2 linked regions of the Homo sapiens genome follow. The protein of the gene in region 1 interacts with the protein of each later gene in a biochemical or structural test. Each region holds a gene or a part of one and is shown in the gene's direction. Other genes may lie near its edges. The genes, in order: CSN2 and NEK2.

Region 1 (3,829 bases):
AGAATATATTTTCAATGAGTATTTCTTTTTTTAAAAATCAGATGGGGTTTTAGATATCATTTGTTGTCAGGGAATGAGCATGGTGGTAGAGAGAAATTAGCATCTATTAATTGCTTTTTTTTGTACCATGTCCTTCTTGACTGCATTCATCTGACTTTCTTTTACATAACAAGCTCATATAGAACAGTTTAATACATAAGTTTAATGATTATACAAAGTTATTAATGATATTATCAAAGAATTAATGCCTTTATTTCCTGATTTATATTGCAAAGTAAGAATTGTTAAAACTAAACCTAATTTTATTTTATATTTTTCTGTAGGAATCTATTACAGAATACAAGGTAAATTTTCACATTTAAAATGTACACATTTTCAAAATTTCCTCCTTTTAATCTTTACAGATGGTAACATATCTTTATATATGATATATCTTTAGCAGAAAGTTGAGAAGGTTAAACATGAGGACCAGCAGCAAGGAGAGGTAATTTGTTAATGATAAGTATATGTTTAAAATTATTATAAAGTATAATACATACAAAAATATTTATAATGTGTATGTTGATTCTAAAGAATGATAATAAAATAAATGCCATATACCCACCAACCACTTTAAAAATTAAACATTGATAAAGTCAATATATTTTCTAGGATATGCATGCATTTTTAAACTCATAATTAATTTCTAGAATACAGACTAAATACATAATGATATTACTAATGGTATATCTGTTTTCAACAAGTACACATTGGTGGGAACATTTCCAGGTTGGGAACTATGATCCTCTTATTTCCAAGGTGGATATGGTAATGAAAAGGTGTATACGGCTGGTAAAAAAACCTATGTAAAATTTGTCCCATATTGCCTTTATTCCCATATGGACAACACAAAATCCTGTATTTCATTAAATTACATTTATGGTGATATGTTTACCCAATTATAATTTTCAATTGCTTTGTGTACCAATGAATTGTTTGGAGTCACATAAAATATTTCTAAAATCAAATTTAAACAAAAAAATTGATGTCTCTTGAAAGACTCAAGAGACTATCTTCTCCCAAGGGAAGGAATGTAAGAATTTGGCCGGTGTTAAATTACTTCCTGAGATTAGCCACAAATTAAGACTGATTTTCTTTTTCATCAAACCAAAACAAAACAAAAATAAACCTTGGAATTGTCCCTCTAAGTCTTTTTAAACTGATCTCTTTTCACTGTATGAAAACAATTTGGTCTACTATTGGCACAACTGTGTTGAAAAGTAAATTCTCTCTGAAGACCAAAGTGTACAGCTACAGCTATCCAGGCAATTCAGGAAAATGTTAAAAAAAGTGTTTCTGAAATATCCAAACATTGATTTCACTTTGGCCTGTGGAGTTACCCATGAAGTGAGTGGATTAAAATTTTTCAACAAACAGTTTACTCATTTTTCTTCGCATGACTCAAGATACTTTCTTAACCAAAATAAGTGAAATATTTTCTCCTCTCTTTTTACTCATTTATCATTGTCTAAAAGAGAGAAATGAATTCATTATGAATGGCAATTATAGCTTAATCAAGGACTCAAAGATTCTTTTTCCTTCTTTCCAGGATGAACACCAGGATAAAATCTACCCCTCTTTCCAGCCACAGCCTCTGATCTATCCATTCGTTGAACCTATCCCCTATGGTTTTCTTCCACAAAACATTCTGCCTCTTGCTCAGCCTGCTGTGGTGCTGCCTGTCCCTCAGCCTGAAATAATGGAAGTCCCTAAAGCTAAAGACACTGTCTACACTAAGGGCAGAGTGATGCCTGTCCTTAAATCTCCAACGATACCCTTTTTTGACCCTCAAATCCCAAAACTCACTGATCTTGAAAATCTGCATCTTCCTCTGCCTCTGCTCCAGCCCTTGATGCAGCAGGTCCCTCAGCCTATTCCTCAGACTCTTGCACTTCCCCCTCAGCCCCTGTGGTCTGTTCCTCAGCCCAAAGTCCTGCCTATCCCCCAGCAAGTGGTGCCCTACCCTCAGAGAGCTGTGCCTGTTCAAGCCCTTCTGCTCAACCAAGAACTTCTACTTAACCCCACCCACCAGATCTACCCTGTGACTCAGCCACTTGCCCCAGTTCATAACCCCATTAGTGTAAGTCCAAATTTACTGGCTTTGCTGTTTCATTCAAGATGTGTATGTGATGGTAGAATAAAAGAATAAATGTAGAGTAAATGAATTAAAAAAACAGTTTAGATAAGTGATTCTTTTATTATTATACTTTAAGTTTTAGGGTACATGTGCACAACATGCAGGTTAGTTACATATGTATACATGTGCCATGTTGGTGTGCTGCACCCATTAACTCGTCATTTAACATTAGGTATATCTCCTAATGCTATCCCTACCCCCTACCCCCACCCCACGACAGGTCCAGGTGTGTGATGTTCCCCTTCCTGTGTCCATGTGTTCTCATAGATAAGTGATTCTTAATGCTTACCTATACAATAGAATCACCTGGAGAACTTTTCCCCACAAATCCCAATGCCTAAGCTTACCCAGAGATTCTGATATAATTGTTCTAGTTTTTTGTGTAGAGGAAACTGAGTGTTGAGAAAAAAACTATTGCATGAATTCTGGTTTAATTAGTCTGTTGAGAATTCTGATTTAGATAAAGTAATTAAGGCTTACAAAAGCCGGAATTAAATTTAATAATATGATTGAATTTGGAAAAAAAAGCTAAAAAATGTTCTGTCATTTTCCTTGTGCACATCTCTTTTACACAAGCCTTACTTCACATCTTGTTTTTGCTATAAGTATATATGAAGGCAAAAGACTGAGATGCTTATTTCACTACTTACAACATTCTTAAGGCAAGTTTTCTTACTAAGAGGTTATTTATTTATTTATTTATTTATTTATTTTACACAAGCCTTACTTCACATCTGGTTTTTGCTGTAAATATATATGAAGGCAAAAGACGGAGATGCTTATTTCACTACTTACAACATTCTTAAGGCAAGTTTTCTTACTAAGAGGTTATTTATTTATTTGTATCTGTTTATTTTTAAGGTCTAAGAAGATTTCAAAGTTAATTTTCCCTCCTTATTTTTGGTAAGTTTTGGGAGTTTGGAGATTTAATTGATCATTTTTATACATGATGTCTTTTTACATTTAATTCTCCTAGAGAAGTCCAATACAGTGAAAATTTCATACATACAAGAACTTTTTTTATTAATTATCAATTTAATGGTTGACTATCATTTACTGACCTGAAACTATCTATCTTTTGCATTTCAAATAACTTTAATTTTATTTATGTACTATTGACAGATTTGACTGGCTTGCTTTCAAGGGCCTATATACTTACATTTGATTATCACTATTTTTAGGAAAGACAGAATATATACTTATTTTACTTTTATGGAAATACATTTGAGCTTTTGTCAAAAGCCTATTTGCATTTTTATTTCTAACCTAGCCTTCATAAAATTTGTATTTACTTTACTTAAAATTATCTTTTAATTCATGAGTTAAAATTACTCCAAGTGTAAAGGTTAAAAAGAGGAGAGAACAGCATTGCAATTCTAAGATATAAAGCCTTTTGGGATTATGAAATACCAGACATTTCACTGAAACAATTTCAAGTTCACTAATATTTGATGAACTTTGGTGAAGTTTGGTGAACAAACTTTACATGCCTCCAAACCGCAACAGAATGCATTTGCAATACAATTTCTTTTGTGAATTAGTCACACCAAAGTTAAAAGTGAAGAGAGTTGAATAGTTACGTGTTATAACATAACTAATTATATATTTGCTCTCTATTCCACAGAATTGACTGAGACTGGAAATATGATGCCT
Region 2 (3,829 bases), on another chromosome or scaffold:
ACTCACTTGGAGTGTTTGTTTAAAATGCAGAGTTCTGGGTCCCAAACCCAAACCCAAATCCATCGAGTGAATTTCGATCTCTGGGTGGGTTCTTGAACTCTGTTTTTTTTTTTTTTTAATATTTTACTTTTTATTTTAGACTTTGCATTTAAGAGGCTCTGTAAATGATTCTTGTGTATGCAGAATCAGAGCTCAGGAAGTTTGCTCACTTCAGATAGCATGTTTTTACAATGTTAACTTTTTGTACATTTTATTTTTTTGTTGCCTATCCCTGAAATATCTTGCTGAGTCCACTCACCAATTACCTCTATTGCTGGATATTTTGTTTCCAACATGTTTCACCATTCTTAGAAGTACTGCTCTGCATATCTTTGTATGAATTATTCTTTCTTCCTTTTTGGTTATTTCCTTGGAGTGTAGCTCATAAAATGAAATTGCTGGGGTAAATGTTTATGGCTGTTATTAGATATTGTCTGATGGCTTTTAAAAAGTTTAAGTCAATTGTGATAGCACTAATGTGTTAGTATATAACATCTGAACAGATAAAGATGAAGAAATATTTGTTAGTATTTTAGTAGTTCACCTTTCTAGGATTTTCCAAATATTTATAAATTATGTTAACAGATCTTACTATAGTATAAAACTTTGTAAATTAATGATTTTGGTTTTGACTAAAAATAGCCAGAACAGTACCATTTTCTCACTGTATCAAATTCCAAATAGAATGTTTTTAACATAAAGGACAATTATCCAGAAGTGGTTCTTGGGAAATTTGAAACCTATTCTTTTGTTCCTTTTCCCTCCTGCCCTTGTAATTAGAGTGGTTCAGCTTTCCTAAGGCACTGATTGTCAAAAAGTGGCATCAGACTCACCAGTTGGACTTTAAAACACTAACCAGCCACTAGAGATTGCTTCTATTCCCTCTGTTGAGAATAGGAGCTCTGGTAGGCTGTTGTTACTGTAGATGTGGAAGAAAGGCAAACAATAAAATAGGTAAGGATAATATTAGTTACTACTGTGATTTATGGAGTGGACTAAGACAAAATATAAATGGATAATTCAATTAGCTATTTATGTCTATATCCATTTAAATGTGGACTAGATACATATTTTGACTATTCTTAAATTTCCTCTAGTTCTTTTAAAATGGTGTTTCTTAATTTGCCTTGAGAGTAGAAGTCTCTCATATTCACCTCTGTATTGTCAGTGCCTAGTCTATACTAAGCACTTTCATTTGTGAATGGAAAATGAGTGAATGAATTATGTATGATGGAGTGTATTGGAACAAGATCATTGCCTTTTTTCCATTATAAATTTCAAGATAAAGTATAAGCTAAAAACTTTGAGGTTCTGTTTTTATCTCAGGAGTAATTTAATGTGTTTTTTAAGTTTCAAAACAAAATAAACTCTTAACACCTTCCACTTTCTTACCCTTTTTCCCTGTATAGGAACAAATGAATCGCATGTCCTACAATGAGAAATCAGATATCTGGTCATTGGGCTGCTTGCTGTATGAGTTATGTGCATTAATGTAAGTATGATGAAGACAGATTCCTAGTCTAAGGTTTGTACTGTTTGTCACATTTCACTGGGTTCAGTTTTTTGAGCCTCTGTGCTAACGAAAGTATATTCAAGTCTGAAAGAATTGTACCCTGGGTAAAATTAAGGTAGATAGATGAACAGGCTAAAAGAAACTATTCACAAATTAAAACTATAAGCCATGAGGCTGGGTCTTGACTGTTCAAGGGTCTTGGCTGGTTAGGTGCTTTCTTATTAGATTGACACTTAGCTCAAGGGAGAGCACATAGGTCAGGCAGGTAAGGTAAAGCTACTGTAAGGATGTGGAAGAAATGAAACAAGACTCGGGTAGAGGTCTGGGGATCTGTAGAGCAGGGAAGAGCTCCAATTCTTTTCCTTTGTTCTTCTTTTCATTTTCTTTCCCTTTGAAACTATTCTGTAGAGCAGTGATTCTCAACTAGGGATAAGGGAAGCAAATTTGCCTCTTATGGGGCATTTGATGATGTTTGGATAAATTTTTAGTTATCACAGCTGGGGAGTGCTTCTGGCATCTAGAGGGTAGAGGGCAGGGAGGCTACAAAATACCTATAATGCACAGGACAGCCCCCCACAACAAAGAATTATATGACCTCAAATGTCAATAGTGCCAAGGTTGGGAAACTTACTTATAAGAAGAAAATCCCAGAAGTAGAAACTTAAATACAAACTGGAGCTTAAGCTGTGCTTTTGATTTAGTTCCTATTGTATATTTTCATTTTTACAATTTGAAAATGTCTTCGTCGTCTTCTTCTTCTTTTTTAACCCTAGGCCTCCATTTACAGCTTTTAGCCAGAAAGAACTCGCTGGGAAAATCAGAGAAGGCAAATTCAGGCGAATTCCATACCGTTACTCTGATGAATTGAATGAAATTATTACGAGGATGTTAAACTTAAAGGTAAAGATGATAAGATGATATATTGTCTGTTTCTAGCTGTCAGTTAAGTGTCAGAGCATACATTCTCTCTTGTAGATCAATGGAGACTGAAGAAACGTTAAATATACTTTCTTAGCTAAATTTACTGTGTTAACACAAGTGAAAACATATGTAAATTTGGCAAATTGCACATCCTTGCTGGCCCACCTTCTGCGCTTTCTTTATTTCTCCTCCCACTCTGTCATGCTAACAGATGGTCGGTAGCAAGGAAAGATTGCAAAAAGAATTCAAATTCTCGTTCCCCTTGTCCTTGCCTACCTCACAGTGGCAGGTAGTGAGGGAAGGGGCCAGAAATAAGAGTTTATTACTCTGCCTCTAGCTCTAATTGAGAGATTAAAGACCAGAAGAAGGGGAGGGGTGATGGAGGGCGGACGGAGGACAGCTAAAAACAGAGGGAAAATCAATAAAGAGATTATGTGGAAAAACTCTGGCTATAGAATGGGGAAGGAGATGTTCTGGGGACCAGGCTGACATAAGAGAAGAAGGAAAATGCCGTAGGATCACAGAGAAGGATACAGATGAAGTGACAGGATTGAGAGTCAGTGAGAGAGTATCTTGCTAAATGTAGTTTAGAAATGCAAGGGCAGTACTTCCCCTAAAACAGACCCTAGCAATGCTACCAAGCCCCAGCACAAGATGTGCCAATCTTCAGGGATTGAACCTTCTTAGAAAGGTGAAAAGGGGAAAAGGGAAAAAAGGTAAGTTAACATCTGCATTACCTTGTGGACCCAGAACCTCATGAGTTAAAACCACCAGTGAACTTATTTTTCCAAGTTTTTAAGACCTAGCCATAAAGGAGTCCTTTCTTTTGTCTTGGAAACACATTTTTGTCCTTTTATTTTAACTGCTGTCTTAGGAGGACTATTCTGTTATGCAATCTGACTATAATACTGAGTATTTTTTCCCCAGGATTACCATCGACCTTCTGTTGAAGAAATTCTTGAGAACCCTTTAATAGCAGATTTGGTTGCAGACGAGCAAAGAAGAAATCTTGAGAGAAGAGGGCGACAATTAGGAGAGCCAGAAAAATCGCAGGATTCCAGCCCTGTATTGAGTGAGCTGAAACTGAAGGAAATTCAGTTACAGGAGCGAGAGCGAGCTCTCAAAGCAAGAGAAGAAAGATTGGAGCGTAAGTCTGAATGGGGGTCAAAGCAAAGGAGAACTACCAAGTGGGTTATTTTGATGTGTCTGAATATCTCTTTGAGCAGAATATTTTATACATACAGATCTTATTAGAAGCTTTTGAAAAATACTTGAGAAACCAAAATATGTATTTTAGACTTTTTAATAATCAGGCTTGCTGGCACCTTCATGTTGGACATCTTTCTCTGAGATCAG

The links.
Region 2: of the proteins of CSN2 (region 1) and NEK2, one has a biochemical effect on the other in vitro, tested with the Homo sapiens proteins (one study listed by BioGRID).

What each region holds. Positions count from the first base shown.
Region 1 is NC_000004.12:69,955,564-69,959,392, reverse strand, and holds part of CSN2 (beta-casein isoform 1 precursor), read left to right. Parts: intron 1-323; coding exon 324-344; intron 345-439; coding exon 440-484; intron 485-1,588; coding exon 1,589-2,119; intron 2,120-3,037; coding exon 3,038-3,043; 3' UTR 3,044-3,079; intron 3,080-3,800; 3' UTR 3,801-3,829. UniProt on the Homo sapiens protein: Important role in determination of the surface properties of the casein micelles.
Region 2 is NC_000001.11:211,668,904-211,672,732, reverse strand, and holds part of NEK2 (serine/threonine-protein kinase Nek2), read left to right. Parts: intron 1-1,448; coding exon 1,449-1,531; intron 1,532-2,325; coding exon 2,326-2,452; intron 2,453-3,400; coding exon 3,401-3,620; intron 3,621-3,829. UniProt on the Homo sapiens protein: Protein kinase which is involved in the control of centrosome separation and bipolar spindle formation in mitotic cells and chromatin condensation in meiotic cells.